Linked DNA regions of Homo sapiens. The protein of the gene in region 1 interacts with the protein of each later gene in a biochemical or structural test. Each region holds a gene or a part of one and is shown in the gene's direction. Other genes may lie near its edges.

The links.
Region 2: the proteins of MAF (region 1) and ETS1 form a complex in vitro, tested with the Homo sapiens proteins (one study listed by BioGRID).
Region 3: the proteins of MAF (region 1) and USF2 form a complex in vitro, tested with the Homo sapiens proteins (one study listed by BioGRID).
Region 4: of the proteins of MAF (region 1) and UBE2O, one has a biochemical effect on the other in vitro, tested with the Homo sapiens proteins (one study listed by BioGRID).

Annotation. Positions count from the first base shown.
Region 1 is NC_000016.10:79,593,338-79,597,768, reverse strand, and holds the end of MAF (transcription factor Maf), read left to right. Parts: exon of another isoform or gene 1-3,215; coding exon 3,216-3,309; 3' UTR 3,310-3,931; downstream 3,932-4,431.
Region 2 is NC_000011.10:128,458,530-128,465,560, reverse strand, and holds the end of ETS1 (protein C-ets-1), read left to right. Parts: intron 1-1,933; coding exon 1,934-2,052; intron 2,053-2,984; coding exon 2,985-3,200; 3' UTR 3,201-6,796; downstream 6,797-7,031. UniProt on the Homo sapiens protein: Transcription factor. Directly controls the expression of cytokine and chemokine genes in a wide variety of different cellular contexts. May control the differentiation, survival and proliferation of lymphoid cells.
Region 3 is NC_000019.10:35,264,730-35,271,970, forward strand, and holds the start of USF2 (upstream stimulatory factor 2), read left to right. Parts: upstream 1-4,232; 5' UTR 4,233-4,372; coding exon 4,373-4,434; intron 4,435-4,716; coding exon 4,717-4,763; intron 4,764-4,851; coding exon 4,852-4,970; intron 4,971-5,073; coding exon 5,074-5,274; intron 5,275-5,717; coding exon 5,718-5,868; intron 5,869-5,988; coding exon 5,989-6,076; intron 6,077-6,353; coding exon 6,354-6,412; intron 6,413-7,241. Other genes in the region: LSR (lipolysis-stimulated lipoprotein receptor isoform 2 precursor), read left to right, coding at 1,630-1,803, 1,950-2,009, 2,107-2,238, 2,380-3,005, 3,095-3,130.
Region 4 is NC_000017.11:76,394,137-76,401,167, reverse strand, and holds part of UBE2O ((E3-independent) E2 ubiquitin-conjugating enzyme), read left to right. Parts: intron 1-13; coding exon 14-157; intron 158-617; coding exon 618-727; intron 728-870; coding exon 871-1,021; intron 1,022-1,246; coding exon 1,247-1,719; intron 1,720-2,176; coding exon 2,177-2,331; intron 2,332-2,583; coding exon 2,584-2,696; intron 2,697-2,784; coding exon 2,785-2,913; intron 2,914-3,276; coding exon of another isoform or gene 3,277-3,279; coding exon 3,280-3,369; intron 3,370-4,346; coding exon 4,347-5,040; intron 5,041-5,306; coding exon 5,307-5,443; intron 5,444-7,031. UniProt on the Homo sapiens protein: E2/E3 hybrid ubiquitin-protein ligase that displays both E2 and E3 ligase activities and mediates monoubiquitination of target proteins. Negatively regulates TRAF6-mediated NF-kappa-B activation independently of its E2 activity.

The DNA of each region.
Region 1 (4,431 bases):
TTTTTCCTTTTTTTTTCCTTTTGGCTTGGAAATGGACGTTCGAAGACTTATAGCATGGCATTCATACTTTTGTTTTATTGCCTCATGACTTTTTTGAGTTTAGAACAAAACAGTGCAACCGTAGAGCCTTCTTCCCATGAAATTTTGCATCTGCTCCAAAACTGCTTTGAGTTACTCAGAACTTCAACCTCCCAATGCACTGAAGGCATTCCTTGTCAAAGATACCAGAATGGGTTACACATTTAACCTGGCAAACATTGAAGAACTCTTAATGTTTTCTTTTTAATAAGAATGACGCCCCACTTTGGGGACTAAAATTGTGCTATTGCCGAGAAGCAGTCTAAAATTTATTTTTTAAAAAGAGAAACTGCCCCATTATTTTTGGTTTGTTTTATTTTTATTTTATATTTTTTGGCTTTTGGTCATTGTCAAATGTGGAATGCTCTGGGTTTCTAGTATATAATTTAATTCTAGTTTTTATAATCTGTTAGCCCAGTTAAAATGTATGCTACAGATAAAGGAATGTTATAGATAAATTTGAAAGAGTTAGGTCTGTTTAGCTGTAGATTTTTTAAACGATTGATGCACTAAATTGTTTACTATTGTGATGTTAAGGGGGGTAGAGTTTGCAAGGGGACTGTTTAAAAAAAGTAGCTTATACAGCATGTGCTTGCAACTTAAATATAAGTTGGGTATGTGTAGTCTTTGCTATACCACTGACTGTATTGAAAACCAAAGTATTAAGAGGGGAAACGCCCCTGTTTATATCTGTAGGGGTATTTTACATTCAAAAATGTATGTTTTTTTTTCTTTTCAAAATTAAAGTATTTGGGACTGAATTGCACTAAGATATAACCTGCAAGCATATAATACAAAAAAAAATTGCAAAACTGTTTAGAACGCTAATAAAATTTATGCAGTTATAAAAATGGCATTACTGCACAGTTTTAAGATGATGCAGATTTTTTTACAGTTGTATTGTGGTGCAGAACTGGATTTTCTGTAACTTAAAAAAAAATCCACAGTTTTAAAGGCAATAATCAGTAAATGTTATTTTCAGGGACTGACATCCTGTCTTTAAAAAGAAATGAAAAGTAAATCTTACCACAATAAATATAAAAAAATCTTGTCAGTTACTTTTCTTTTACATATTTTGCTGTGCAAAATTGTTTTATATCTTGAGTTACTAACTAACCACGCGTGTTGTTCCTATGTGCTTTTCTTTCATTTTCAATTCTGGTTATATCAAGAAAAGAATAATCTACAATAATAAACGGCATTTTTTTTTGATTCTGTACTCAGTTTCTTAGTGTACAGTTTAACTGGGCCCAACAACCTCGTTAAAAGTGTAAAATGCATCCTTTTCTCCAGTGGAAGGATTCCTGGAGGAATAGGGAGACAGTAATTCAGGGTGAAATTATAGGCTGTTTTTTGAAGTGAGGAGGCTGGCCCCATATACTGATTAGCAATATTTAATATAGATGTAAATTATGACCTCATTTTTTTCTCCCCAAAGTTTTCAGTTTTCAAATGAGTTGAGCCATAATTGCCCTTGGTAGGAAAAACAAAACAAAACAGTGGAACTAGGCTTCCTGAGCATGGCCCTACACTTCTGATCAGGAGCAAAGCCATCCATAGACAGAGGAGCCGGACAAATATGGCGCATCAGAGGTGGCTTGCGCACATATGCATTGAACGGTAAAGAGAAACAGCGCTTGCCTTTTCACTAAAGTTGACTATTTTTCCTTCTTCTCTTACACACCGAGATTTTCTTGTTAGCAAGGCCTGACAAGATTTAACATAAACATGACAAATCATAGTTGTTTGTTTTGTTTTGCTTTTCTCTTTAACACTGAAGATCATTTGTCTTAAATAGGAAAAAGAAAATCCACTCCTTACTTCCATATTTCCAAGTACATATCTGGTTTAAACTATGTTATCAAATCATATTTCACCGTGAATATTCAGTGGAGAACTTCTCTACCTGGATGAGCTAGTAATGATTTCAGATCATGCTATCCCCAGAAATAAAAGCAAAAAATAATACCTGTGTGGAATATAGGCTGTGCTTTGATTTACTGGTATTTACCCCAAAATAGGCTGTGTATGGGGGCTGACTTAAAGATCCCTTGGAAAGACTCAAAACTACCTTCACTAGTAGGACTCCTAAGCGCTGACCTATTTTTAAATGACACAAATTCATGAAACTAATGTTACAAATTCATGCAGTTTGCACTCTTAGTCATCTTCCCCTAGCACACCAATAGAATGTTAGACAAAGCCAGCACTGTTTTGAAAATACAGCCAAACACGATGACTTTTGTTTTGTTTTCTGCCGTTCTTAAAAGAAAAAAAGATAATATTGCAACTCTGACTGAAAGACTTATTTTTAAGAAAACAGGTTGTGTTTGGTGCTGCTAAGTTCTGGCCAGTTTATCATCTGGCCTTCCTGCCTATTTTTTACAAAACACGAAGACAGTGTGTAACCTCGACATTTTGACCTTCCTTTATGTGCTAGTTTAGACAGGCTCCTGAATCCACACTTAATTTTGCTTAACAAAAGTCTTAATAGTAAACCTCCCCTCATGAGCTTGAAGTCAAGTGTTCTTGACTTCAGATATTTCTTTCCTTTTTTTTTTTTTTTCCTCATCACAACTAAGAGATACACAAACTCTGAAGAAGCAGAAATGGAGAGAATGCTTTTAACAAAAAAGCATCTGATGAAAGATTTTAGGCAAACATTCTCAAAATAAGAGTGATATTCTGGATGTAGTTATTGCAGTTATCTCATGACAAATGAGGCCTGGATTGGAAGGAAAATATAGTTGTGTAGAATTAAGCATTTTGATAGGAATCTACAAGGTAGTTGAATATAATAAGCAGGTTTGGGCCCCCAAACTTTAGAAAATCAAATGCAAAGGTGCTGGCAAAAATGAGGTTTGAGTGGCTGGCTGTAAGAGAAGGTTAACTCCTAGTAAAAGGCATTTTTAGAAATAACAATTACTGAAAACTTTGAAGTATAGTGGGAGTAGCAAACAAATACATGTTTTTTTTTTCTTACAAAGAACTCCTAAATCCTGAGTAAGTGCCATTCATTACAATAAGTCTCTAAATTTAAAAAAAAAAAAATCATATGAGGAAATCTAGCTTTCCCCTTTACGCTGCGTTTGATCTTTGTCTAAATAGTGTTAAAATTCCTTTCATTCCAATTACAGAACTGAGCCCACTCGCAAGTTGGAGCCATCAGTGGGATACGCCACATTTTGGAAGCCCCAGCATCGTGTACTTACCAGTGTGTTCACAAAATGAAATTTGTGTGAGAGCTGTACATTAAAAAAAATCATCATTATTATTATTATTTGCAGTCATGGAGAACCACCTACCCCTGACTTCTGTTTAGTCTCCTTTTTAAATAAAAATTACTGTGTTAGAGAAGAAGGCTATTAAATGTAGTAGTTAACTATGCCTCTTGTCTGGGGGTTTCATAGAGACCGGTAGGAAAGCGCACTCCTGCTTTTCGATTTATGGTGTGTGCAAGTAAACAGGTGCATTGCTTTCAACCTGCCATACTAGTTTTAAAAATTCACTGAAATTACAAAGATACATATATATGCATATATATAATGGAAAGTTTCCCGGAATGCAACAATTAGCATTTTAAAATCATATATAGGCATGCACATTCTAAATAGTACTTTTTCATGCTTCATTGTTTCTCTGGCAGATAATTTTACTAAGAAGAAAAATAGATATTCGACTCCCCTTCCCTAAACAAATCCACGGGCAGAGGCTCCAGCGGAGCCGAGCCCCCTGGTTTTCTCGTAGGCCCTAGACGGTGTTGCATTTATCAGTGATGTCAAACGTGCTCATTTGTCAGACATAGCTGTAAATGAAAACAATGTGTGGCAAAATACAAAGTTAGTTAAATACACACCCTCTGTGTGATTTTTTGCTCCCTTTTCTTTTTTGCTCCTACTCAAAAAAAAAAAAATCACCTCCTTTACATTTCCCTGGCTTCTTGCATGTTTCCCTTTTCAAAAACCATGTAATAATTTTTTACAATGTATCTGACACATTAATATATTGACATCAAATAGGCAGACATTCTACTTTTGCCTGGCAAATAAATCTGCTACGGAGACATCATTTCCTCACTGTCTCAAAGCCATAACTACCTGGGAGTCTTTCAACACAGACCCCTCCGATGGGAAATGCTGTTTATTACTGAATGCAGGATGCTCACGCTCTGATCTTTTCTCCCTTGTGCCTTTACCCCAGTCATTTTTACTTAGCAACACCAATTCTAGATACTTCTGTTCTGAAGTAGAACCACCCCCTTGCCACACTGCCAGTTTTCCTGCTAAAAGCAGTGGACAGAAGACAGATCATGGTCACCCTCACAAACATGGCACACAGCTGTCTCGGTAGCTG
Region 2 (7,031 bases), on another chromosome or scaffold:
AGAGCGATTTGCTGTTTTACTTCTTTGTGCCTGTTAGGATGGCTTCTCAGTGGATTCCTCTGAGAATGTCACGGTTAGTTTTGTGAGCCCAGGCAGAAAACAAGTAGCTCATGACTTTAGGCAACTCCCAAGAAACCTGCAAATGTCCCTGAGTTGAATACGAAACGGTTTTTATTGAATGAAAGTAGAAACAGAGGAAGCTACGGCTTTACCAGTGCGGCCCTCTGGGCTGTTGTTCGAATGTTACTTTATTTTATAGGCATTCACTGAGCCATTTTATTGTGGAATACATGTAAGGTATTTCTTGCAAGATAGTTTTAAAGAGCTAATGGTCCATTCTCAGAAAGAGGAGGTAGAGCTATTTCATGTTTTCATATTTAGCGTGGCAAGTGCTGAGAGGAGCCTTGGAAACCACCATTAGGAAGTTGTTACTGGAGGAGGACTTCCTTTGGCTGTGGGATGATAGCTCGTGTCAGTAGCTGTTTCTTTACTTCATTGGAGGTTGCCCTGGTCCTTTGAGTCTAAAGGCCTGGGTACTAGACCCAGAACCACCATTTCGCTAACCGTGGCTCAGAGCAAAGTCACAGTACTTTGCTGAGCACTTTTTCTGCACCATTAGAAAGGAAGCCGTAAGACCACTTGTGCCTCTCCTTACAGCAGAGGGTTGGGTGTGGATTTTAGGAGCAAGCACAACGATGCATGTGAAAATGTCTTGTAGAAATATGAGATACAACAAGACATTACCCTTATGGATTATGAAGGCAATTTCTTTTTTAGATTGAGAGGGAACTTAAAGTTTGTTTCCTGTTAAATCTCAGTTTACTTTGGATCAGACAAATTTGCAACTCCGGTGAAAAATTAGAGCCTTAGTGAGCAAAGCTTTCCTGTAGGAGCTGGTGCTTCCTGGGCTGTATCCAGAGACATGGACTGGGTCTTTCCCAGTCCCGCTCTGCCCAGTTTGTTTATGTTATAAGGGGCAGTGTAACAAGAAGCATGGACTTTTGAACCCCTATTTGTCTCTCCACCGACACCTATAAATTAAGAATCACTGGTGGCATTGTCATTTCAGATGAGAAAAGTATCCTCAAAGGAAATCGGTGTGATATAAACCTTTTAGCATAGAATAAATTGACTGTCAGAGTGTTGATGGCTAAGACAGAGAAGTGTGTGTGTGTGTGTGTGTGTGTGTGTGTGTGTGTGTGTGTCTAATTTAGAATATACTGAACCTATGCAGAATTTCTGACAGTCCTCATCTGACCCCTGAGGATTTTCTGGGTGGCACGTTAATTCCTCAAATAGTAATGATGCTTTTTTTTTTTTTTCCTTTGGGTGCTTTCCTGTAAGTGGACTGGAAGGGCAGGGTGGTGGCAGTGGAGAGAAATATTATGACTGAACAGATATTTAACATCTATTTCCTTGTAAGAGGGCCGGAGGATAGTGATCCTTCTTACTCACAAATCAGGGGCCACAGGCTCCCTACTACAGAGCAGTGCTTATGAGCCATAACTTGTGTTTGGAACTGGCAAAGACATTCATTCCTTCGTTAATATGTTTCTTACTTCTGAAGGCAAAAATAATGACTTAGTTTTTGCAGGTGTAAAAGATTATGCTGCCTTAGAATATCCCAGAGGATAGGCACAGTGTTCTCTTTCTAGAATTTGTTTAGCAATAAAAATGAACCGATCCTTAAGTTAATCAAAATAAAGCACTTGACACATTTTCTTCCATGCTTTTGTTTTATAGGGAGGCCTTTGTCTTTTCTATCTGTTCGAGCTCATAACACTTCCTCCGACATGTGCACTGTCTGTTGCCTTCATTTTCTCCTGGCTGGATGGGCTGAGAGAAGAGGGATGTGGGAGTGCCGTGTGTGGGGATTAGCTGCGTAGAGTGCTGAATATCTGGTGTAATGATTCACAATGGCTTGTGTTTCTAGGCAGTGGACCAATCCAGCTATGGCAGTTTCTTCTGGAATTACTCACTGATAAATCCTGTCAGTCTTTTATCAGCTGGACAGGAGATGGCTGGGAATTCAAACTTTCTGACCCAGATGAGGTAAGGAAGGAGGGGCTTGCGAGTACTGTGTTGAGGAAGGATGAGAGAAAACTCCTGGAAGGGGTGGCGTGGGCCTGAATGACGTGTTCCAGGATTGGGATTCCCAGCTCTGCCACTTGCCACCCGGAGCAAGCTAGGTAGCCTGTCTGAGCTCCAGGTTCATTATTTGGAAAATAGAGAAAAGATCTATGTTACCCCATTTGTCTTACAGGATTAGCTGATAGAAGGCATTAACGTGCCTGGCAGTAGGTCAGTTATCACCCATAGAGCTGCCTCCTGTGACTTAGCCTCTTCCTAGCCCGGTGGCTCTGTGAGTGTGAAAGGGGCCAGACAGTTCAAGAGGCCTTGGGAGATTGGCTCATTAGTTTCTTATTTCATTACACACATGTTTATGGAGTAGTGGTTCCGTGCCATGCCCAATTCTGAGGATAAAAAACAATGAACAGGAGAGACAACATCTTTGTTCTGGCAGACATGAGAAAATATTTGTGCCCTGGTATGGAAAAAAAACACTTCCTGTTGATGAAAGGCAGGTATGATTGCAGCTCAGCTCCTCCGCTTCACACTTCCCTGTTAGATTTCATGCTTGCAAAGCAAGGAGATTTTACTAATAATATGCGGAAAGAGGAGAATGTATAGTGTGGCTTTTTGTTTGTTTTTTAAAGTCACATATTTAATCCTAGTTCAGGGTCACTGTGTTTTCATCAACTTAAAGAATCATTGTGACTCCCATCCTTGCCCAACCCATGAAAAATGGAATTCAGGAGATAGGCCCGAAAAATATTTTCTATATCTACATGAATCTCAAATCATCTTACTTGAGCATCATGGGTCACCATGAATGGGTATAGCATAGGCATAGAAACATATATATTTGGCCTGTCTTGTAGATTTTTGCCTACTCCTCCTTTATTTTTCTTTTTAAATTTCAGGTGGCCAGGAGATGGGGAAAGAGGAAAAACAAACCTAAGATGAATTATGAGAAACTGAGCCGTGGCCTACGCTACTATTACGACAAAAACATCATCCACAAGACAGCGGGGAAACGCTACGTGTACCGCTTTGTGTGTGACCTGCAGAGCCTGCTGGGGTACACCCCTGAGGAGCTGCACGCCATGCTGGACGTCAAGCCAGATGCCGACGAGTGATGGCACTGAAGGGGCTGGGGAAACCCTGCTGAGACCTTCCAAGGACAGCCGTGTTGGTTGGACTCTGAATTTTGAATTGTTATTCTATTTTTTATTTTCCAGAACTCATTTTTTACCTTCAGGGGTGGGAGCTAAGTCAGTTGCAGCTGTAATCAATTGTGCGCAGTTGGGAAAGGAAAGCCAGGACTTGTGGGGTGGGTGGGACCAGAAATTCTTGAGCAAATTTTCAGGAGAGGGAGAAGGGCCTTCTCAGAAGCTTGAAGGCTCTGGCTTAACAGAGAAAGAGACTAATGTGTCCAATCATTTTTAAAAATCATCCATGAAAAAGTGTCTTGAGTTGTGGACCCATTAGCAAGTGACATTGTCACATCAGAACTCATGAAACTGATGTAAGGCAATTAATTTGCTTCTGTTTTTAGGTCTGGGAGGGCAAAAAAGAGGTGGGTGGGATGAAACATGTTTTGGGGGGGGATGCACTGAAAATCTGAGAACTATTTACCTATCACTCTAGTTTTGAAGCAAAGATGGACTTCAGTGGGGAGGGGCCAAAACCGTTGTTGTGTTAAAATTTATTTTATTAAATTTTGTGCCAGTATTTTTTTTCTTAAAAATCGTCTTAAGCTCTAAGGTGGTCTCAGTATTGCAATATCATGTAAGTTTGTTTTTATTTGCCGGCTGAGGATTCTGTCACAATGAAAGAAAACTGTTTATATAGACCCCATTGGAAAAGCAAAACGCTCTCACTGAGATCAGGGATCCCAAATTCATGGGACTTATATAAGAAGGACAATTAATGCTGATTTGGGTACAGGGGAATTATGTGTGTGAATGTCATCTACAATTAAAAAAAATTAGCACATCCCTTTACTTACTTGTTATCAGTGGATTCTCGGGGTTTGGACTTAATGTTGAGCTAAGAAGCATTAAGTCTTTGAACTGAATGTATTTTGCATCCCTGGTTTTGGACGACAGTAAACGTAGGAGCACTGTTGAAGTCCTGGAAGGGAGATCGAAGGAGGAAGATTGACTTGGTTCTTTCTTAGTCCTATATCTGTAGCATAGATGACTTGGAATAAAAGCTGTATGCATGGGCATTACCCCTCAGGTCCTAAGAAATAAGTCCTGAATGCATGTCGTTCCAAACTAACACTCTGTAATTTTTCTTTTATGTCTTATTTTCCAAGAGTCCTCCATTTTTTGCACCCCCTCACCGCCAACTCTGTTATTCAGTAGAGAGAAGTGTACGGCTTTCTGATTGGTGAGTGAAAAAGTAACTTGAGACACGACCTAAGTTGAAGAGTTTAGACTTGCTGAGTTTTAGAAGTGATGGAAATTAAGAGAGCATTTCAATAAAATGTGACTTGGCTGTCTTTGGAAGAGAAGTGCAAGGCTTTCCTTTGAAGAATTTAAATTAGTCCGGTAGGATGTCAGGTGAGACTGTGTATGCAAAATGAATGGCACAGGTGATGCCAGGGCCTCTTGCTTGGGTCTGATGTCTTGGCACAGGGTAAGTGAAGGTTAATTCCAGAAGAGAGGAATGACTTGAAGGCAAAGGAAACTAAGGAAGGAGGTTCAGTGAGGAAAATAAGGTTGTCCATGAGATTTGAATAGATTTTTAGTTCCCCCAAGGTTTAAATACAAACATAGTCAAGCAAGGTAGTCATCTTTCTGCTGGTTGTGAGGGGGAATCTGAAAATGGAGTTTTAGAGGAAAAGTCAACATCTAACTAGTGAGGAAAAGTGCCTAATACAATTAGAATCTCCCTCACTCTATAGTTGCCCAGTTGAAAGGATAAGGAGGAGGGGTGGCTTTTATGGACTTCCATGAGAGAAGGAAAGAAATATTTCAGGTAAGCTTCTCAGGGCTGGCCCTTTTTGGGATTTGGATGAGAAATTGGAAGTACTAACTACTTTCTAGCATATCTTTAAGAAAATTGATTGTTATTTACTCCCAGATCCTCTTGCAGACCCAGAATTATCAGGAACATAGCTCTGTGATTCATGAGTGTCCCCATACTGATGAATTGGAGCATCCATATGGAAAGCAAAGGCAGAATTATCCCAGCTGTATTATTTTGATCTTTTGGATGCAGGTGCCTTAATGAAGCTCTCAAAATATTTTAGGAGCTGCTCAGGGAGTGTTGGGTGGAACTGTTTGGACTACATTGTTTTCTCTTAGATTATGTGATTTTTGTTGGGCACTGGCAAAAGGTGTGTGTGTGAATGTGTGCATGTGTGTGAATGTTGTGTGTGTGTGTGTGTGTGTGTGTGTGTGTGTGTGTGTGTGTGTTTGCAGACATGCAAAACTGCAGCTGAAATAATACCTTAGATTTCTAGGTAAGTCTTTCCACATTTCAATAATGGGTAAGAGTAGAACCAGGGCCGGGTATCAATTATTGCTTGCTGTTTGCAACCAGGCATAAAATCACTTTCTCAAATCATCCACCGTTCCTATTAAATTTATGCCGGAAACTCTCCTTCTGTGAGTATAACTCCTGCAGTTCCTATAGCAGATAAGATATAAGAAAGTGCCTCCTAGTGCTCCTCCGCCCGCTTGTTTGCTAAAATTCCCTTTCTCTCTAAGTCCACCATTTTCAAGATTTGTAGATAGTGTATTAGTTAAGACAGCTTTGTCGATCTGGCCAGATGTTTTTTCTCCTTTGTCCAAAGGCCAGAGACCATCCCAGGAAGAGTGGTGGGTGGTTTATACACTGGAAATGTTGCGTTTATGCTTTTTAAAAACACACGTTAACTTCAGAGGAAGGATGGGCAAATCTGGTCTAGCTGGGTGAAACCCTTATTTTCCCAGAGATGCCTTAACCTTTGTTGGTTTTGGCTTTAGGGTTCAGAGTCACTTTTGTTCCCTTCTCCATTCTGGAGAGGGACTTCCCCTACATAGAGCCCTGATTTTTGTGGCTGTGGGGATTGGAGGTAGCATTCAAAGATCAGATGTGCTTTTCCTCACTTTGGAGATGAACACTCTGGGTTTTACAGCATTAACCTGCCTAACCTTCATGGTGAGAAATACACCATCTCTCTTCTAGTCATGCTGTGCATGCCGCTTACTCTGTTGGGGTCTATATAAATTTGTTGAACTCTTACCTACATTCCAAAGAAGTTTCAAGGAACCATAAATATATGTATACATATACATATATAAAATATATATATTAAAATAAAATTATCAGGAATACTGCCTCAGTTATTGAACTTTTTTTTTTAAGAATACTTTTTTTTTAAGCTGAGAAGTATAGGGATGAAAAAGATGTTATATTGTGTTTGACTATTTTCCAACTTGTATTTTCATATAATTTATATTTTTTAAAAGCTGAAAATTTAGAAGCAAGATGAAAAAAAGGAAAAGCAGGTGCTTTTTAAAAATCAGAACTGAGGTAGCTTAGAGATGTAGCGATGTAAGTGTCGATGTTTTTTTAAAAAAAAATGCAAAAAAATTCTTATGGCGGAGTTTTTTGTTTGTTTATTTTAGTAGCTGATGCTGGCACATCATTTTGCTGGAGAGTTTTTTATATACTGTAGCCTGATTTCATATTGTATTTTAAACTGTGTGAAATTAAAAACAAAGAATTTCATTCATAATGCTGTGGCTTTGGCTTGATTCTTTCTTGTCTGGATCATGTATTAAAGCAGGACAAATCAACCAACCAGAGGCAAGCACAGAGGGATGCAGTTTAGTCTTTCTGATCTCACTAGCTCAGGACCATTGGAGATAAAGATTTCCTAATAAGGTGAGAAATATAACAGGAATATAGGGAAGTCATCGAACATCCCAATCTTTGAATATATTGTGTCATCCTTTGTGGAATGTCCCTGG
Region 3 (7,241 bases), on another chromosome or scaffold:
GGGCTCAGTGTCATCCCCTATAAAATGGGGCTTATGGCAGAGCTCACCACACTGGGTGCATCTGGGGATTTGGCGAGCTCATGTGCACACCATTGAGCATGGGGCCCAACCTATATAAAATATTCTACGTCTGTCAGCTGCTGGGCACTGCCACTATCAGCCTCAGTAGTGACTGAGGGACAGGGCACCAGTCAGAGCCCTGGTGCACACAGAGTGACCCCAGAGAAGCAGCCTTCCCTCTCTGAGTCCTGTTTCCTTCTGTTAGGTCCTGACTTCATGGGTTGTTGTTAGCATTAAGGAAGTCGCTGGCTAATTTTATAGTCATTGAAGTCAGTGGTGTGCAACCTGGTTCCTCAAAGGATCACTTCCCTGAAAAAATTCCACTGCTCCCTGGAGGCTTATGCAGGCCATCCCATCCCCTCCCTCTTGTTGTGTTCAGCTGACAGCTTTTTGCTCAGTGAGTAAGTGTTAGGTCCATTTCACAGATGGGCTGCAACCAAGTTTGCAGTGAACCCACTAAGACCAGAGCTAGGGCCAGGACTAAATGCTGGTCCCAATGCCACATTCCCCTGTCCCCACACCACATTTCCTCCATCCGGAGACCCTGTTACCCCAACCCAGGGCCCCATTAACTCCCTGGCAGAGGCCCTGTTACATCTGCTGCTGCCACAGCCTCCGCCCACCCTTCAGGAGGCAGCAGGTCCCACTGCTGATGATAAAGTTGCAGGCTGCCTGAGCTAATGAAGGGGCTTCCTCTAGGCTGTGCACTTAGTCTTCTGCTTCCAAACCAAATCAGAGGTGAGGCACCCTCTCTGGGCCCATCTCTCTCCTCCATTTTCCTGTTGGGGTCCCAGGGAGGAAGCCACTTGCCTAGGGCCCAGGAATTTTGCAAGCCTCTTGCCCTAGGGAGGAAGGAAGGGAGGAGGATCTTACCTTGAACTGTCAAGCCTAGAGCCTGGTGGGGCAGGCAGAAATGGGTGCAGTCCATGAGTTAGAAACACTAGAGGAGACACTTTGCTGCTTGGCCGGGGCAGGCAAGTTAATTCCCGAGGCTCCTGCCACTGCATCTCAATCTGGAAGGTGACCAGGTGGGCAGGACCCACGTCTCCCAGATGACTCATTTTTTCTAGAACAGGGGCTTGGCTGCCAAAGAGGATACTTGATTTCGGCTTGTGGGGACAGTGGTGGACCCAGCATCTGGGCTTTATATAAAGGGCAGCTTTGTTGCCCTGTAAACACACAGACCATGGGTGGCCACTTCTTCCAGTAAGTTAGCTGGGGAGTTGGAAGTTTAGGTAAAACCTTTTGATTGACAAATGTTGGCGAATTACCATGCTGTTAAATGAAACATTGTTCTGCCACCCTGGGGCTGTGGGTGCCTGCGTGCACCCTCTGAAAAATCACACAGGAAGTGGGGTGGGGTCTCTGTGAAGCTGGTGTCCCCCAGCCTCAGGGATGCTGCAGAAATGGAATGAGGACCAACAGGGACTCAGATGTCCAAGGAAGCTCTACAGCGGAGAGGACGGCTTGGGAAGGAGGTCCAGGCCCAGGTCCCTCCGGAACCCAATGGGTATGGGGCAGCCTGGCTCCTGCCTCATCCCCCTTCTCCTGTTGATTGTGTCCTCACAGTGTATGCCGCCGGCAAAGCAGCCACCTCAGGTGTTCCCAGCATTTATGCCCCCAGCACCTATGCCCACCTGTCTCCCGCCAAGACCCCACCCCCACCAGCTATGATTCCCATGGGCCCTGCCTACAACGGGTACCCTGGAGGATACCCTGGAGACGTTGACAGGAGTAGCTCAGGTGAGGCCGGGGGAAGCAGGAACAGCTGGTGGGAGTGTGCTGGGCATCTGGACACTGAGGGGCAGGGGCTGGAAGGAAGAGTGTCTTGGGAGCCGAGGAGGGGCTCTGCTCCTGGTGCGCGGCCACTGACAGCCACTCTCCCCCAGCTGGTGGCCAAGGCTCCTATGTACCCCTGCTTCGGGACACGGACAGCAGTGTGGCCTCTGGTGAGAATCCATCGTCCCGAAGTTGGATGTGCCTGTAAGGGAGAGGGGTGGGCCAGGATCCATCCTCCCAAACCGACCACCACCCCCCTGTCCCTAGAAGTCCGCAGTGGCTACAGGATTCAGGCCAGCCAGCAGGACGACTCCATGCGGGTCCTGTACTACATGGAGAAGGAGCTGGCCAACTTCGACCCTTCTCGACCTGGCCCCCCCAGTGGCCGTGTGGAGCGGGGTAAGCAGGAGCCTTGGGGTCTGAGGGCTTTTAAGGTGGGGGGGTGAAACATGTCTCCCTGATACCTGCCGCAGGGACTCTTGGTGCAAACCCTGGACCCCGGGCTCCTCCAGCAGTCAGTGACACCCCCCTTCCCTGCAGCCATGAGTGAAGTCACCTCCCTCCACGAGGACGACTGGCGATCTCGGCCTTCCCGGGGCCCTGCCCTCACCCCGATCCGGGATGAGGAGTGGGGTGGCCACTCCCCCCGGAGTCCCAGGGGATGGGACCAGGAGCCCGCCAGGGAGCAGGCAGGCGGGGGCTGGCGGGCCAGGCGGCCCCGGGCCCGCTCCGTGGACGCCCTGGACGACCTCACCCCGCCGAGCACCGCCGAGTCAGGGAGCAGGTCTCCCACGAGTAATGGTGGGAGAAGCCGGGCCTACATGCCCCCGCGGAGCCGCAGCCGGGACGACCTCTATGACCAAGACGACTCGAGGGACTTCCCACGCTCCCGGGACCCCCACTACGACGACTTCAGGTCTCGGGAGCGCCCTCCTGCCGACCCCAGGTCCCACCACCACCGTACCCGGGACCCTCGGGACAACGGCTCCAGGTCCGGGGACCTCCCCTATGATGGGCGGCTACTGGAGGAGGCTGTGAGGAAGAAGGGGTCGGAGGAGAGGAGGAGACCCCACAAGGAGGAGGAGGAAGAGGCCTACTACCCGCCCGCGCCGCCCCCGTACTCGGAGACCGACTCGCAGGCGTCCCGAGAGCGCAGGCTCAAGAAGGTGAGGGCCGCCCTCCCTGGCGTCCAGACCGTCCCTGGGCCCCCAGCCGGTCCCCGCGGCTCATACCCTTCTTTCTTTCTCCCTTGCAGAACTTGGCCCTGAGTCGGGAAAGTTTAGTCGTCTGATCTGACGTTTTCTACGTAGCTTTTGTATTTTTTTTTTTAATTTGAAGGAACACTGATGAAGCCCTGCCATACCCCTCCCGAGTCTAATAAAACGTATAATCACAAGCTCTGGAGAGAACCATTTGTTCGGCCGCGCGGGGCGGGGGACCGGGGCTGCTCCCGTATGCGTCTGTAAAGCGCCGCGTCCCGGGGGCACCGGAGTCCGGGGCCGGGAGGAAGAGACCCAGCCTGGCCCGGCCCGCGCCCGCGCCGCCGGCCGGAGAACGTGCCCCGCGCAGCCGCCGCCCGCCTGCGTGCGCGCCCCGGCCCCGCCCAGGCGTGCGCATGCGCCCCGGCCCTCCGCCTTCGCGCACCGCAGGCTGGCCGTCCGGGACGCGCGCGCGCTCCTCTCCCCTTCCAGCCCATCCCCCCCAGCCCCCCACCGACCTACTTTACTGTCTCCAAACTCGGGCAGCCCACCTGGCCCCCGACGACCCCAGCCCCTGCACCGGGTACCCCGACGTTCCATCCAGACCCGCGTTTCACCAGGGCGGCGCGCGGCGACCTCGCGCCCCGCGGAGCCCCGGGCTCGCGCGCGCCCGCCCGCCCCCGGAGACAGACCAGCGCGCGCGCCCCGGGCCGCCTCCCCCCAGCGCGCGTCCGCCCCGGGGCTCGCGCCGCCGCCGCCGCCGCCGCCGCGCGCGCGCAGCTCAAGTAAAGGAGGAAAAAAAAAAGGGGGAAAAATAGAAAGCGGCGGCGGCTGCAGCAGCGATCCGCCGCCGGACTGGGCCAAGCCGGGCGGCGGCCGCGCGAGCCGGCGATCCAGGGCACTGGCGGCGGCCAGCCAGGGCGGGCCGTGTTCAAAAAAAAAAGTCGCGGCGGCGGCGGCTGCTCAGGGAAGGAGGCCTGAGGGCCGCGTGCAGCGGGCGGGCAGCTGGGTGGGCTGGGGGCGGCCGCGCGGCGTCCCGGAGCCTCGGGCCGCCCGGAGCCGGCGGGCGGGCGGAGGCGGAGGCGGCGGCGGCTGCAGCGGCTGCAGGAGCGGCGGCGGCTGCGGCGGCGGCGGCGGCATCTCCTCCTCACATGACCCCACTGTTTGTCCCCGTGATCAGCGCGAGCGGCTCCCGTATCTCCTCCGTCCCCTCCTGCCGCGCGGCGTGAGCGCCGGGCTCGGGGCCCCCCCGGCCGCCCGCCCCCTCCCCTCCCTCCCTCCCCTCCCCTCCCCTCCCCCCCGGGCCCCGCGCCCCCCCCGCCCCCGCCCCCCCCATGGACATGCTGGACCCGGGTCTGGATCCCGCTGCCTCGGCCACCGCTGCTGCCGCCGCCAGGTAAGATCCCCGGCCCGGCCGTGCCCCCGCGCCCCGGCCCCGGCCCCGGCCCCGCGGCCTGCAGGCCGGGGCCGCCATGATCCCGAGCGGCCGCGGGCCCGGCTCAAAATGGAGGCCGCCGGCGCGGGGGGGACCTGGCGCCTCCCGCCCCCGGCCCCCGGCCTCGGCGGCGCCCCCGGCCTCAGGCGCGGCCGGGTGGGACTGGGGCCCTGCAGCTGGGCGCGGGGGCGGGGGCGCGGGCGCGGGCCGCGCTGACCCTGCTCCCTCCTGTGCCCCTGGCAGCCACGACAAGGGACCCGAGGCGGAGGAGGGCGTCGAGCTGCAGGAAGGTGAGTGCTTGCCGGGCCGGCCGCGCCCGGGGAGGGCTGGGGGCGCTCGGCGCGGCCCTGACCGTGCCCCGACCCTCCTCGGCCCCAGGCGGGGACGGCCCAGGAGCGGAGGAGCAGACAGCGGTGGCCATCACCAGCGTCCAGCAGGCGGCGTTCGGCGACCACAACATCCAGTACCAGTTCCGCACAGAGACAAATGGAGGACAGGTGAGCGGCGGGCCGCGAGGGCGAACGGGCGGGCGGGCGGGCGCGCCGGGAAGGCTCGGACCTGGCCCCAGCGCCGGCCTCGCCGCTCTGCCGCCCCCTGCAGGTGACATACCGCGTAGTCCAGGTGACTGATGGTCAGCTGGACGGCCAGGGCGACACAGCTGGCGCCGTCAGCGTCGTGTCCACCGCTGCCTTCGCGGGGGGGCAGCAGGCTGTGACCCAGGTGGGTGTGGACGGGGCAGCCCAGCGCCCGGGCCCCGCCGCTGCCTCTGTGCCCCCAGGTCCTGCAGCGCCCTTCCCGCTGGTAGGTGCCCTGCCACCCCTGGGTGGGGGGGGGAGGGAGTGGAGAGGGGACACTGGCTCTGCTCTTGGGGAGCCCCGGGGGTGGGGCAGGTGTCGCCCAGCGGATGCTGCCTTCAGGCCTCAGGCTGCATGGGGCCAGATCCCTGTTGTGCACCGTGAAACCTGGGGACAGTGCTCTTGGAATTTTTTTTTCCCGCAAAATGGGAATGATGTGTCTTAAGAGGAAAGTTTCTTAGAGTGCGAAACGGATTTGCTCAGCAAGTGATCGCTGACCTCCCGCCATGTTCCAGGGCTGTTTGAAACACAGGACAGAATGCTACACGCAGAAGGAGTCCCCACTCCTGTTAATTGCAGAGAATGCAGTAAACCCCAAGCACAGCAATGAGGGGACGGGATGGAGGAACAGAGAAAGCTAAGGGTAGCCTCTGCCCTCCTACTCCCCAGGCTGTGATCCAAAATCCCTTCAGCAATGGTGGCAGTCCGGCGGCCGAGGCTGTCAGCGGGGAGGCACGATTTGCCTATTTCCCAGCGTCCAGTGTGGGAGATACTACGGCTGTGTCCGTACAGACCACAGACCAGAGCTTGCAGGCTGGAGGTGAGGAGTAGAAGTCAGATTGGCAGGTGGGGGAGGCAACGGGCCCAGCAGGGAGGGAAGCCCCCCCAGCCAGTTCTGACTTCACCCTGCCTTGCCACTAACCCCCCACTCTCCCTGCAGGCCAGTTCTACGTCATGATGACGCCCCAGGATGTGCTTCAGACAGGAACACAGAGGACGATCGCCCCCCGGACACACCCTTACTCTCCGTATGTGCAGGGGACACCTGGAGGGCCTGGTGTTGAAATGGAAGGAAGAGGGGTTTCTGGAGTAGAAGCTGGGCAGTTAGCATGAAGTGGGCACATGGTGTAATGTTTTTTTTCTTTGCCTGTTTCTGCTGCTCTAGTGCACATAAAGTATCATGTCTTTTGTTTTTGCAGATGGATTTACCTTGCAAAGATAATTTTCAAATCTAATACTTAGCAGATGCTTGGGCAAACAGCTCTGCGATAATACATGCCCCCTTTTTTTTTCCTCCTCTTGTAGAAAAATTGATGGAACCAGAACACCCCGAGATGAGAGGAGAAGAGCCCAGCACAACGAAGGTGAGGACAAGGTGTGGCTCCGGGTCCCCCTGACCACCACCCTCACAGGCTCAGCCAGCCCTGGAGTGTGGAGTGACAGAGAGAGAAGCCACTCCTGGGCAGGCCACAAGTGCTCCAGAGGGCTTTGCTGGACGCTGTAAAGGTAGAAAGTGAGCAACGAGGGGAGAGTACAGTGTCAGAAGTAGAGGGACAGGGAGTGTGAATTGGAACTGGCCATTTGTTGACCCGGCTGGTGATCTTGAATTCATGGCCCACATCTAAGATGGTGGACTTCACACTCCCATACGGATTGCCTGCCCCACTTGAAAAATGGGGCTGACCGGGCTCACGTGGGCTGACCTTTCCACGTGGCAGCTGTCATGCTCACATCCCGCACTCCCATGCCTGCCTGGCCTCCAGAAGTAGGTCTGTTCCCCCAGGGAGCACATCTGAGGGAGAAACTGCATGAAGTTCTGCCTCTGGCTACCTAAGGCCGGAGCATCCTGCCCTTTCCAGAAACACCAGGTCTCACCTCAGGTCATTTGGCCTTCAGCACTGTCCCGCCCCGCCTGTCAGTAGCCACTGCAGTGGGCACAGCACTGTGCAAGTGCCAGGAGAGTGCTTACACCCAAACAACCATCATTCAACAAATATTTACTGCCCGTGGGTTCTGGGCTGAGCGGCACAGGCCCTGTGCCAGGTCTGGAGTCTGGCCTGGAGCGTCAGGGAGGCTCAAAGGCCTGAGGGCTTATGTCTCATGGGTCTCATGGGACATTGATGGGGGGTGGGCTGGGGTGACGCTTCCCTAGGGAGAGGGGAGTGTGGGTCAGGTTACTTTGTGGGGTGCTGG
Region 4 (7,031 bases), on another chromosome or scaffold:
CCACATCCCGCAGGGTCTCTTCTTCGATGATTCCTATGGCTTCTACCCAGGCCAGGTGCTCATTGGCCCTGCCAAGATCTTCTCCAGCGTCCAGTGGCTGTCAGGTGTCAAGCCCGTGCTCAGCACCAAGAGCAAGTTCCGAGTGGTGGTGGAAGAGGTGGGTCCGGGCCCAAGGGTAGGAGATGGAGTCCTTGACCTCCACACCCTGGAGCTGAGCTGCTGCCCCTTTCCTTCCTGCTCTTGAGGGTTGAGCCCCGCTCCTCAGCATCTGGACCCTGTTGATCTCAAAGGGCTTTGGGGATAAAGGGAACCCAGGCTCTGGTCATAGTGACCAAAAGACAGATGTGCCCCAGCCCAGCCTGTACAGGCTGAGCAAGGTGGGAGGGTGGCAAGTGGCAGTTCCAGTGGCCCCTGGCTGGTATGAGCAGTGACACTGGTCCTGGGCATTGGGTGGGGGCCGTGGTTACAGTTGGGGCCTGCTCTGATGTGTCTGTACTTGGTGCTGCACTAGGAAGATCAGTTTCCTGCTCTGGAGGTCAAGTGGGCTTTGGGCAGCTGGCTAAAGAGAGTGCTGTCAGAGCCTGCCCTGACTGGCGTGTCCCACCTGCCATCCCCAGGTGCAGGTTGTAGAGTTGAAAGTTACATGGATTACCAAGAGTTTCTGTCCAGGGGGCACGGACAGCGTCAGCCCCCCACCCTCTGTCATCACCCAGGAAAACCTAGGCAGGTAAGCATGCCCTTACTGCCAGCAACCCAGGGGCACGCGTGGGACAGGGCTCTGGGCCCTGGTCACATGCCTGGGGAGGCTTAAGAACACTGCTGGCCTCCCAGGAGTCCAGCCCAGCTCACCCCCACTTCTTCCCCAACCAGGGTGAAGCGTCTCGGATGCTTTGACCATGCTCAGCGGCAGCTTGGGGAGCGCTGTCTGTATGTCTTCCCAGCCAAGGTAGAGCCAGCCAAGATTGCCTGGGAATGTCCAGAAAAAAACTGCGCCCAGGGGGAGGGCTCTATGGCCAAGAAGGTATGTCCTTGGGGTTGGGGATTGGTGGGCATTTGAGGAACTGGCCTTGAGCCATTTCCATGGCCAAGAAGGACAGTCTGTGCTTTAGGCCTTGGGGGGCAGCCCTGATGACCCTTGCCGGCTACTCAGGTGTATACAGCTGTCATCCCCCCAGCCTGAGATGCCTAGGGCCAGGCCTGCCCAGGTGCACCTCACAGCCCTGTCCTCTCTGCTCCGCCCTTGCAGGTGAAGCGCCTGTTGAAGAAGCAGGTTGTGCGGATCATGTCATGCTCCCCAGACACCCAGTGTTCCCGGGACCATTCCATGGAAGACCCAGACAAGAAGGGGGAATCCAAAACCAAGAGCGAAGCGGAGTCTGCCAGCCCTGAGGAGACGCCCGATGGCTCTGCCAGTCCAGTGGAGATGCAGGACGAGGGTGCAGAGGAGCCCCACGAGGCAGGAGAGCAGCTGCCCCCATTCCTGCTAAAAGAAGGCAGAGATGACAGGCTGCACTCGGCAGAGCAGGACGCAGATGATGAGGCTGCTGATGACACGGACGACACCAGTTCGGTGACCTCCTCTGCCAGCTCCACCACTTCCTCCCAGAGCGGCAGCGGCACGAGTCGCAAAAAGAGCATCCCCTTGTCCATCAAGAACTTAAAGCGCAAACACAAGAGGAAGAAGAATAAAATCACTCGAGACTTCAAGCCAGGGGACAGGTAAACTCAGAGTTGTGCCCCTCCCCAATGGCGTCAGCGTGAAGCCAGGCAGAGTGCGCGTCCCCTCGGTGTGCGTGCCTGCGCTCGCACACACACCTCTGCATGCCTTGTAGTGGCTCCGGGGCTCCCACCCGAGACAACGTAGGTGCCTGGGGTAGGCCCTGGTGGAAAGCAGAGACTGAGGAGTGGTGCAGAGGGTGGGATGGTGGTGGCCTTAAGCTTGGCCTTCTGGAACCACATTTGCCTGAGCTCTCCCAAGTGGATCCTGTTCTCAGAGAATGCGTGGCCTTGGAACCCTGGGTGAGCTTCCTGTGCACCAGAGACTCATCCTGCCAACCTGGGATTCAGAGTTTCAGGTTACCAAGCCCACAGGGACAGGAAGGGACAGAAAGACTCTCTGCCCTTTCCGCGGAGGGGGTGGGGTTTGCATGGCCTGCTGACTGGCCTGCACCCGCAGGGTGGCAGTGGAGGTGGTGACCACGATGACCTCAGCCGACGTGATGTGGCAGGATGGCTCCGTGGAATGCAACATCCGCTCCAACGACCTCTTCCCTGTGCACCACCTGGACAACAACGAGTTCTGCCCTGGAGACTTCGTGGTAGATAAGCGAGGTAGTGCCAGCTCTGGAAGGGCAGCCAGCAGGGTGGTCGCCAATGAGGGCCCGGGTTGGGGCTTGTGGAGAATGGGCAGTGGATCTGGGGTCAGAGCTAAAATGAGGTCCAGAAGGGGACTGCCCTCATGAAGGGGTCTCACCACTTCCAAGACGGGGGAAGGTCAGGGTTCTGCACTCTGCACTGGCTTGAGATGTGGGCTCCTTAGCCGGGATCCCTTAGCTAGTCACTTCCCTTTCTCTGGTTCCCTAGTCCAGAGCTGTCCAGACCCTGCTGTCTACGGTGTGGTACAGTCTGGGGACCACATCGGCCGTACCTGCATGGTGAAGTGGTTCAAGCTGAGGCCGAGTGGGGACGACGTGGAGGTGTGTGCAGCCCCTACTGCTTGCTTCAGGTGGGCTCTGGGGTTGGGTGTAGGACCCCTAGCTCATGACAACCTGTCCTGTGCCACAGCTGATTGGAGAAGAGGAAGATGTGAGTGTTTACGACATTGCTGACCACCCTGACTTTAGGTTCCGTACAACTGACATCGTCATCCGCATCGGCAATACTGAGGATGGGGCTCCTCACAAGGAGGATGAGGTACGCCTTCAAATTCAAGTTCTGGATGGCTGCTCACTGCCCTGTGCACCAGCTGCAGTCCCTGATGCTGCCACCAGGTGGCTCTAGGAGACAAGACCTGAAAGTCCTCTGGGCTCAGTGTCCTCAGAAGGGCAGCTGCCCCAGAGTCAAGCTGCCGCTCAGCACTAGCAGCTGCAGAAGGACTTGTTTCCCTGCCTCCCTTCTGGGGTCAGGCTTCTTGAGCTGCCGCTGGTTACATTTACCAGAGGAGCTAAGTTCCTTGTCACAAGCCAGGTGGGCATGATGTCAGTCACTGCAGAGCACAGGAGGGGCTGGGGAGCTGGAGCTTGAGCTGGGCCCCCTGACTTTGTCCCCTTTGCCCAGCAGCCATCGGTGGGCCAGGTGGCCCGTGTGGACGTCAGCAGCAAGGTGGAGGTGGTGTGGGCTGACAACTCAAAGACCATCATCCTGCCCCAGGTGAGGCTCTGGCAAGACCCCCCTGCTGAGCTTGTGACTATGGCAACTTGGGCCGGGGGCCACAGGCGTGTAGCCAGAAGATGGGCTCTCAGGTCTTCCTGGTGAGATCTCAGCGAAAGCGTGAGGGGAAAGGCAGGCATTCCACACAGCCCTTGGTGCAGGCCTGCAGTTGGCCCACCAGCCTCGCTTCTCCCAGCAATCTCTTCACGTCCATCTCTGGGTGCATGTAGACTTTCACAAACCTCCAGGATTTTCCTGGATTGTCAGCTCACTATGCTACGAAGAATGCAAGTTCCCTCCTAAAAGGAGATGGAGACTTTCCTACCACCCTTTTTAGAAAGCTCTAACAGAGAAGGAGAGAAAGGAGAGAGCCGACCCAGTTCTAGCCCCACCTGCTGGGTCCTGAGCAGAAGGGCTACACGGGCTCTCCTTCCCTCGCCTCCTGGTTGGAGCCACACAGCCCAGCTCTCCTCTCCTGGTCCACACAGGGGGCAGGAGTGGGGGCGGGAATGGCTTGCCCCATCACCTTAACGGCCATTCCAGGGAACGCAGCAGGATATGTCGGCCCTTCTACATGTCCCCTCTTGTCATATGTTCCCAGCTCCCCACACAGGCCTCCTTGGCTGCATCATTAGCTGACCCTGCGCTTTTCAGGTGTGGGACTGGGCCTGCCAAGGTCCCCTAACGCCTTGGACAGATGCTGACGAAGTGCACAGAGCAGGAGGAGAGGCTGGAACAGACCACTGGCTGGGGCTTTGGGTCCAGCTGGAGGGTGGGACAGGTGAAGGGCCTCTCCCAGAGACCTAGGGACTGCAAAAGCCAGAGCAGAGGTCAGGGAAAGGGTGGAATGAGGTTGCCAAGGCCTCATGAGCCCAGTCGCCATCAGCTGTGCGGATCAGGGATCCCCAGAGCTCCTCCTTAGTGGTGGGGAGGTGACTTCCTGTCTGCTTACCCTGGCACTTCCCTTCTGCCCCCAGCACTTGTACAACATAGAGTCTGAGATTGAGGAGTCAGACTACGATTCGGTAGAAGGCAGCACCAGCGGGGCATCCTCGGATGAATGGGAAGATGATAGTGACAGCTGGGAGACGGACAATGGGCTGGTGGAGGACGAGCACCCCAAGATAGAGGAGCCCCCCATCCCACCCCTGGAGCAGCCGGTGGCCCCTGAGGACAAGGGAGTGGTGATCAGTGAAGAGGCAGCCACAGCTGCCGTCCAGGGGGCTGTGGCCATGGCTGCCCCCATGGCCGGGCTGATGGAGAAGGCTGGCAAGGACGGGCCACCCAAGAGCTTCCGGGAGTTGAAAGAGGCCATCAAGATCCTGGAGAGCCTCAAGAACATGACTGTGGAGCAGCTGCTGACGGGCTCGCCCACCTCTCCGACTGTGGAGCCTGAGAAGCCAACTCGGGAGAAGAAGTTTCTGGATGACATCAAGAAGCTACAGGAAAACCTCAAGAAGACCCTGGACAATGTGGCCATTGTAGAGGAGGAGAAGATGGAAGCAGTGCCCGACGTAGAGCGCAAGGAGGACAAGCCCGAGGGGCAGTCACCTGTGAAGGCTGAGTGGCCCAGCGAAACCCCGGTGCTGTGCCAGCAGTGTGGCGGCAAGCCTGGCGTCACCTTCACCAGCGCCAAGGGCGAGGTCTTCTCCGTACTGGAGTTTGCACCCTGTGAGTCAGCCCTTGCCTGGTCTTCGCCTTCCCCCGCCTTCTCGGGGCTCCTGTTTGTGTCACCAGATCTGGGTGCAGGGTGGTTAGTCCCCTCGCCAGACCCCAGCTACTGCCCCAGGGCAAACCATTTCCCTGTGTGGTCACAGTGCTGAGGCCAGCAGCGGCGAGTGGGAAGTCTGTGGGTGTGCTCACCTGTCCAGCCAGGTTGGCAGATGGAGCTCCAGGGCCTCTCCATGAGGGACTGACTATTCTCTTCCCCCCTCTAGCAAATCATTCTTTTAAGAAAATTGAGTTCCAGCCTCCAGAAGCCAAGAAGTTCTTCAGCACAGTGCGGAAGGAGATGGCGCTGCTGGCTACCTCACTGCCTGAGGGCATCATGGTCAAGACTTTTGAAGATAGAATGGCAAGTAGGCTTGGCATGGGCAGGTGCAGATGTGCTGTGTGGGCACCCAGTGCCCAAGAGGCCACCAACCTTGGGTCCCCAAACCTCCGGGGCTGACTGGCACCTGCGAGGACACTCACCCACCCACCTTTTACAGGGGCGGTCACAGGCTCAGTCAGGTGAGGGCTGACTCAGCCGTGTGTCCAGGCCAGATGGTTCTTTCTTTCCTCCCTCCTTTAAAAAATTACTTTCTCGGCCGGGCGCAGTGGCTCACACCCGTAATCCCAGCACTTTGGGAGGCCGAGGTGGGTGGATCACGAGGTCAGGAGATCGAGACCATCCTGGCTAACACAGTGAAACCCCGTCTCCACTAAAAAAAAAAAAAAAATTACAAAAAACTCTCCCGCCACCATGCGGGCGCCTGTAGTCCCAGCTACTCTGGAGGCTGAGGCAGGAGAATGGCGTGAACCTGGGAGGTGGAGCTTGCAGTGAGCCGAGATCACGCCACTGCACTCCAGCCTGGGTGACAGAGCGAGATTCTGTCTCAAAAAAAAAAATTACTTTGAAATAGGCCGGGTGCGGTGGCTCACGACTGTAATCCCAGCACTTCGGGAAGCCGAGGCAGGTGGATCACCTGAGGTCAGAAGTTTGAGACCAGCCTGACCAACCCGGTGAAACCCTGTCTCTACTAAAAATACAAAAATTAGCCGGATGTGGTGGCGGGTGCCAGTAATCCCAGCTACTCGGGAGACTGAGGCAGGAGAATCACTTGAACCTGGGAGGCAGAGGTTGTAGTGAGCCAAGATCGCACCATTGCACTCCAGCCTGGGCAACAGAGCGAGACTTCATCTCAAAAAAAAAAAAATTACTTTGAAATTAATTATATTATGATTACTCCTCAAGCCTACTTTTCTTTTTGAAAAATTAGAACATTACAGATCCTTTGAGTGGAAATGGAAGAGCTAAAGTTGCCTTTGACCAGACCTCACTTCCCTTTCTCCCCGAATCATAGGCCTCTTCCCACACCCAGAGGATTGTTGGAAGTTTAGTGGGTCTCCTTCCAAACGGATGACCTTTTTTTTATACTTTTACATTATTTATACACTAAAAAAATATTTTTACATTTTCATGTATCACCATAAGTACATAATATTTTGTATGATTTGTTTACACACAGAATATGTCGTCGTACACATCATCTCTAATTTGCTTAAGACCAACCTGTGTTGATTCATAATGATCTAGTTTCTTCCTTTTTACCTGCAAAATAGGATGACAGCATGTGGCCACACCACATTCCATTTTCCCACTCCTCTGTTCGTGGACGGGGCCTAGTGTCTCTGAGTCATGTTTACTGAGGCAGCGCTGAGTGCATCCTTCCGGAACAGGCAAGCCCGTTTGCCTGCCACCTTGTTGACTCCGCAGTCCCTTACTGGGCCTGTGCATCGAGCCAAGCACTATGCTAGACTCTGAATCTGAGTCTGAGGCCCCAGTTCTGGCCCTGTCCTGGAAGGAAGGGAGTAAGAAAAGAAAGAGCAGGGATCCTGAGAGCAGCCAAGCGATCCTGAGAGCAGCCAAGCGGGATGCTGTTGAGATGGGCCCGGAGTAG